Homo sapiens: one gene and its partner. The protein of the gene in region 1 purifies or fractionates together with the protein of each later gene. This does not show direct contact. Each region holds a gene or a part of one and is shown on either strand. Other genes may lie near its edges.

What was found.
Region 2: the proteins of SPEN (region 1) and EPB41L5 purify together in Homo sapiens (co-immunoprecipitation; one large-scale study listed by IntAct). This does not show direct contact.

Annotation. Positions count from the first base shown.
Region 1 is NC_000001.11:15,934,660-15,938,107, reverse strand, and holds part of SPEN (msx2-interacting protein), read right to left. Parts: coding exon 1,842-3,448; intron 946-1,841; coding exon 463-945; intron 297-462; coding exon 102-296; intron 1-101. UniProt on the Homo sapiens protein: May serve as a nuclear matrix platform that organizes and integrates transcriptional responses. In osteoblasts, supports transcription activation: synergizes with RUNX2 to enhance FGFR2-mediated activation of the osteocalcin FGF-responsive element (OCFRE).
Region 2 is NC_000002.12:120,085,941-120,089,763, forward strand, and holds part of EPB41L5 (band 4.1-like protein 5), read left to right. Parts: intron 1-1,230; coding exon 1,231-1,300; intron 1,301-3,823. UniProt on the Homo sapiens protein: Plays a role in the formation and organization of tight junctions during the establishment of polarity in epithelial cells.

The DNA of each region.
Region 1 (3,448 bases):
TAATGCTTCCATGACAGGCCAGGGAGATGGGCTGGCAGGGACTACCTACGTCTTCCTCCCTGTAGGTGGGGCAGTTGCTCACCTGGGCCTGAGAGTCTTACCGTCATCCTTCGGGCAACCCCTTCCAGCTGCGTTGCCTCCAGCCGCATCCTCTGGGCGATCCTTAGTGGGGGCCCTCCTTCAGAAAGGGGCAGGGACCGATGGGCCAGGACGTTGTTGCCAGAGACGAAGTGGAGCTGCACAGCAGCTGTGTCATTCTTGAGGGCCAGCAGGCCCTGCCACACGATGGGGTACTTCTGCTCACAGGGAAACAAACAGGAAGTGAGCTCATGGCCCCTCGCTGAGCCATGCTGGACACAGCCAGAGGCTGTAGCTTGTGGGTCTGTTAACTAGGGAATCTTAGGACATTTGACATGGCATAAAACTTGGGGGCCAGGAAGGGCAGCCCCTGCTCATGCTTACCTTCAGAAGTTGAACCATATCCACGGGTCTCTGGGAAGTCAGGTGTGGAGAGGAATCTTGTTTGGGGGCTGGCTGGAATTCAGTGTGTGGCAGAACCAGTCCTGGTGGGGTGCTGGGGCCAGAGGTTGTTGGGACAAACAACGGCTGTTTTGGGGCAGTCTGAGTGGGAAGAGAGACTGGAAGGTCAGGCTTCATGGAGACAGACACAGGGGAGGGGAAGGAAGTCGGGCCTGTTTCTGCTTGTGCCCTCTGAACCTGGGTGTGAGGCTCAGGTGGCCTGTTTGCAGGTCCAGCTGGGAGGCGAGGCTGCTCTACTCCCGTCTGGGTCCCCTTTGCCTCCTGGGACACTTGAGGCATCTTGCTGCTTGGTGGCTGGCCGGGCTGACCGAGCTGGGAGGGCGGGCAGGGTGGTGCAGGCTGGGCAGGCTGTGTGGACTGCACAGGCTGAGGAGGCTGCAGGGGCTCACCTTCAGGAGGAGGGCCCTGGTGTAGGGAAGGAAGGCAAAGGGACAGAGTCAGTCTGTTGTGCACAAGCCCCTGAGACCAACAAATGACCCAAAGGGCCACAGGGAAAGGATAAGATGTGGCATCTCCCGTTAAGTCAGGCCCACAGAAGGAGCCTGAATCAACGGAGCTGCTTTCGGGGTTCCAGGTAAGGAGAGATCCCCTATTACCTGCCTCCTGCTGATGCTACCCAGCAAGAGCTCCCTCCCCATATGCAGAACTCCCCATGATGTGATCTAATACTTTCATCTCAGAACTAAGAAAGCTCTTTAAACTCATGAAAAGATCAACATCTTTAGGGACTAGCTGACCAGTTCACTTGTACTCAACCACTATCTTTACCAAAAGGCGGATTTCTTTTTCTTTAAGTAGGGACAGAGTTTCACCATGTTGGCCAAGCTGGTCTTGAACTCCTGACCTCAAGTGATCTGCCAGCCCTGGCCTCCCAAAGTGTTGGGATTACAGGCGTGAGCCACTATGCCCGGCTTTTTTTTTTTTTGAGACTGGGTCTCGCTCTGTCACTGGAGCCTAGTGGCACGACCTTGGTTCAATGCAACCTCTGCCTCCAGGGCTCAAGCAATTTTCCCACCTCAGCCTCCCAGGTAGCTGAAACCACAGGTGTGTGCCACCACACCTGGCTAATTTTTGTAATTTTTTTTTTTTGTACGAGATGGGGTTTTGCCATGTTGCCCAGGCTGGTCTCGAACTCCCGGGCTTAAGCAGTCCTCCCATCTGGGCCTCCCACAGTGCTGGGATTACAGGCATAAGCCACCACACCTGGCCCCTGATTTCTTTCACACATCTTGGCTTAAAAGCCTGCTGAGCCCCACAAGCACATGCCCAACAGACAGTGGGGAGATACCTGGCTGGCTCACCTGAGCAGCTGTCTTGGTCCGGGAAGGCAGGCCAACAGAGGAAGCGGCGGGAAACTGAGTGTGTGTGAGCTGGGCCGGGGGGTGGTAGGTGCGGATGTCGCCGTACCGGTACTCTTGAAACAGCTCCCCGCTGGAGTGCACAATCTGCACCCCATGGGTCACCACCACAGGAGGGGTCAGAGGCAGCCCCTGGAGTTGGTTACTGGGGGTAACTGTGAGGATACGGGCCTCACCATGAGGGGCAGGAGCAGGGGCAGGAAGGGGGACAGGGACAGGGACGGGGGCAGGGGTGGGGGTGGGGGCAGCTTTGGCATCTGGTGTCTTGGCAGCTTCCTTCCCTGGCTGCTGAGGGGCCTTGCTGGCTGGTGGCACCTTCACCACCCCATCCGCGGCCCTGGGCTGCTCGCTGACTGCCGTCACATGTGGATGCACCATGATCCTCACATCCCGTGGCACAGTATAGGGGTGCAGTCGGTACTCAGACTGCATGACTAGTACCTCTGACTGCACAGGGGCTGTGGCTCGAGCGACAGGAAGGTGATAATGCACTTCCTCCTCGGGAGGGTGCTGGGAGGCCAGTGCAGGCACACCAGCTGGGGCTGGCTGCGGGGTGCTGGCACGCTGTGGGGCCCTGACCTCTATTTGCTGGGGCTGCAGCGGAGCCCGAGGAGAGTGAAGCGCTTCTGGCCGGATGCTGTAGGTGATACTGGGCAGCGTGGGAGTGTTCATTCTCACCTCGCCCTGGGAGAGGTGGCTCAGGGACACAGTCTGGGTGATGCTGTGGGGTGGCATGATGACAGACTGCTCTGGGTGGATGCTGGAGATGAACTGGGGCACTGGGATGCCTGCAGCCAGCATGACTGTGGCGTTGGTGGAGAGCGCCGTAGATGCAGTACTGCTGGGGTGGCTTGCCCTTGGGAATGAGGATGGCCCGGGTCCACTTGGTCGAGGAGAATGAGCATCTAGCTTTGCAGCTGCCAAATGGGAGACAGTTCGATCTGCTGGGATGCTGGGCCCCGAGGGGACATGGTTGACTTCTGTAGGCAGTTTGCTGGGCAGAGCAGGAGGGTGGTGGGGCGTGAGCGTGGACCCCAGGTTGGCCGGCTGAAGGACCTTGGTCTCGATTTTAAGGGTGACGGGGTCAGCAAGCTTCTTGTTTGTGGTGACAATGCTTGGGGTGAGGACCAGCTGGTTGTGAACCAGCACAGGGGGTGTGTTGATCCCCTGGGTGAGAACCTTCACTGTGCCTCCCTGGGTGACAGGCGTGGACACCGAGAGGTGAATGGGCTCGGGCTTCTCCAAGGATGGCCTATCGGCCTTCACAGACGAAATCACAGGAGAGGCATTATATGTCTGGGCGGTCAGTACCAACGTGGAATGGGTGGCCACGTTCGCATAGCCTGCAGGAGCTTGAGGGCCTTTGGATGGAGGCTGCGATGCTGTGACAGAATCAGGTTTGACCTGGGACTTGGACACTGACTGCTGAAATTCAATGTCCATTGCACTGGCCGGGGGGATCTGGCTGATCTTGGCGCTGATCCGCTGTGGGCCTTCGGTCTTCTGCCCTGAGTAACTCAGGAGCACAACCCCTTCAGAAGTGTTCACAC
Region 2 (3,823 bases), on another chromosome or scaffold:
GCTCACTCCTGTAATCCCCACCAAGGCAGGGGCTCACCTGAGGTCAGGAGTTCAAGACCAGCCTGGCCAACATGGTGAAAACCTGTCTCTACTAAAAATACTAAGATTAGCCAGGCATAGCATGGTGGCACGCACCTGTAATCCCAGCTACTCTGGAGGCTGAGGCAGGAGAATTGCTTGAACCTGGGAGGTGGAGGTTGTAGTGAGCCAAGATCACGCCACTGCACTCCAGCCTTTGTGACAGAGTGAGATTCTGTTTCCTTTCTTTTTCCTGCTATTATTTCTTCATTATTGTTTTAGTAAAGCTCTTGTAAAGTTATGTTTTACATCTATTTTATATGTTATATTTAAAGATTAGTCAATCGGAGTGTCACATTGTTTCGACATTCACAATTTATGGAAATACAGAGTTCAAATGTGTGGTAGGTGGTTTGGAATTTACAAGTAGGGAGATACAGTTGGAAAGCGGGCCATAAAGCGAGGTTAAAAAAATTAAGAAGTATTTCCTCTACCCAAAATTCCTGTTGAAAACAGAGTTGAGGCTGGTTGCAGTGGCTCACGTCTGAATTCCAACACTTTGGGAGACCAGGGTATGCGGATCACTTGAGCCCAGGAATTTGAGACCAGCCTGGGCAACGTAGCGAGATGCCGTCTCTACAAAGAATACAAAAATTAGCCTGGTGTGGTGTGGGAGTAAGGCTGAGGCAGGAGGATTACTGGAGCCTGGAAGTTCACGGCTGCAGTGAGCTGTGAACACACTACTGCAGTCCACCCTGTGTAATGGAGGGAGAACCTATCTCAAACAAACAAAAAGAGTTGAAAACCATCGTCAGTGTTTTTCTTTATGGCTGTTTTTTTTAAGCTTTATGGTCGTTCCTATGTCTAGTTCCTATGCTGCTGCTCTGCTTTAACACTGGAACAATTTTCCCTAGACCTAAAGAATCTCTTACACCATAATCGAGACCTATCAAATACATAGATTTCATTTTCCTTAACATTTTTAATGTCTGATATGTGCAACCTCAATTTTGTCTGAGATTTGCTTTTGAAATATGTACTGTGTTTTTCTGTTTCCTGTCTTTTGATGGGCATTGCAAGTTACGTTTACCGTCCTGTCAATTTTTAGTTCAGGAGTTAGATGGTTAAATGTATTTGAAATAAAAACAATTTTTTTCATATTTAGAGAACATTTGTTTGTAATTTGGCTTTTATTCTCTTATTATATTATAGGCCGAAGATAACCAGATTGGATTTTAAGAAGAATAAATTAACCTTGGTGGTTGTAGAAGATGATGATCAGGTAGGAATAAAATTATATTCTATTACTTGTGTAACAGTGACTGTATTATGTGGTAACTTATTTCTCTAAAAGAGGGAATGTACCTCATTGTTTTAAAGAGCCACAGAATGCAAACAGTATAATTAATGCTTTAAATAATTTCCTTACTTGGGTCATACCATGCTAAAAATATGGTTTTCTGCCCTTAGGATGAAAAATAATATAAAAGTGTCTTCTTGTTTCCTCATTGATCGTATATCTGAGGTGTATAAAAAATTACATTTAAGTGAGCCAGCCAGTCACCCAGGCTGGAGGGCAGTGGCACTGTCATAGCTCACTGTAACCTTCACCTTCTGGGCTCAAGTGATCCTCCTGCTCACTCAGCCTCCTGAGTAGCTGGGACTGCAGGCACATGCCACCACCACGCCTGGCTGATTTTTTCATTTATTTGTAGAGATGGGATCTCAGTATGTTGCCAAGGTTGCTCTCAAACTCTTGGCCTTAAGTAATCCTCCCATCTTAGCTTCTCAGCATGTTGAGATTACAGGAGTAAACCATTGTGGCAGACCAACTTTATCTCTTTATTAACTGATCAAAAAGATCTACCTAATAATAATAAAGCCTTTTGAATTAAAGATTACCTTTGTATCAGTTACAGTGTGGTTCTTAATTGATACATGCTTGGATGCAACTCACATGCATTGTTCTTAATGCAAGAAGCCAGATTTAAAAAATTATGTATTGAATGACTCCATTTATCTGATACTTTAGAAAAGGCAAGAAGAATTTTACTTTATGCAAATTAATAAATTTTAACATATGCATACAGATACAGATAAAAGCAGTTTGAGCAAAATGTTAACAGTTGTTGAGTCTAGACACTATGTATATGGGTATTCAGTTTTTCTGTATGTTTAAACATTTTTATAACGATGAAAATTTTTTTTTTGAATCCAGTTCTTTCATTTTCCTCTGCTCAGTAATTTGACTGCTATACTTTTCCTGTTTTAAACACACAATGGGATACTATGCAGCCATAAAAAAGAATGAGATCTTTTTTGCGGGACCATGGATGGAGCTGGAGGATATTATCCTTAGCAAAGTAATGCAAGAAGAGAAAACCAAATACTACATGCTCTTACTTACAAGTGGGAGCTAAATGATAAGAACTTATGAACACAAAGAAGGCAACAGCGGACACTGGGATCTACTTGAGTGGGGAGGGTGGGAAGAGGGAGAAGAGTAGAAAAGATAACTAACTGAAAGATAACTGGACTTAATACCTGGGTGATGAAATAACATGTGCAATAAACCACCATGACACGTGTTTACCTATGTAACAAACCTTCTCTTGTACCCCAAACCCAAAATAAAAGTTAAAAAATAAAAAAGAGTGCTGCTCTGAACACTAAGGTGTATGTATATTTAGCTTTTGTAGGTACTGCCAAACCTCTTTCCAAAGTATTTAATACGAGTTTATACTCCCACCAGCAATGTTATTGGTGTTTTTTTTCTTTTTTGCTAATGTTTGGAATTCTGTCTTTTTCATTGTAGCCATTCTTGTGGAGTAGAATGTGGTTTTAGTTTGTGTTCCCCTAATGACAACTCTGGTTTAGTACTTATCTGTGTAGTTATTGGATATGTGGATATCTTCTTTATGAAATGCCTACTCAAATCTTTTGCTTATTTTTCTATTAGGTCATGTGCCTTTTAGTCATTGAAAAAATTCTTTGTATGTTCTGGATATTAATTCTCTGTCAGATATTAGTGTTGCAAGTATCGTCTACTCCTTGTTTTGCCCTTTTTCCACCACTTTTATTTTTAGATGACATATAATAATTGTACATATTTATTGCATACAGAGTGATATTTTGATACATGTATACAATGTGTAATTATCAAATCAGGGTAATTAGCGTATCCATCTTTACTGTCTTAATAGTGTCTTTAAATAACCTGAAAAGTACCAAAAATTATAAAATAGATAACCATCTTATTAATGATCTAGATTTAACATTTTTTACATTTTGCTTCAGTTCTCTTTTAGAGAAAGATAAATACAATTATGTGCATGAATAAATAATACCAACTAAAGTCTAACCCCCTGACTACCTACCCCCTTTCTTCTGGTACCTGGTCACCAATTTTGGAGGGTATTATTCTCATATATATTTTGTAACTTTTTCCAAATATTAACTCATGTTAGAATTGTTTTAAAAACTTGCATAATTATATATATTTGCAGCTTGCCTGTTTTATCTAAACGTGTACCTATGTAGATCTAACATATATATATGCTATTGTGTAATATGAATAAACAATAGCACATTCATTCATTCATCATTTATTCATTTATCCCTCTGCATAATTTTTTACATATGCCTCTATTTACTTGACCATTTCTCTTTTTTTGGACGTTTAGGGTTTGTACCAAGTTTTACTATTATAAATGAGACTGAGGAAATATACATCTTCATATATAACTTTTGATGTTTAGGAAATAATTTTCCCCAGAGAGGCAGTATAACTTAGTTGTTAGAGGTG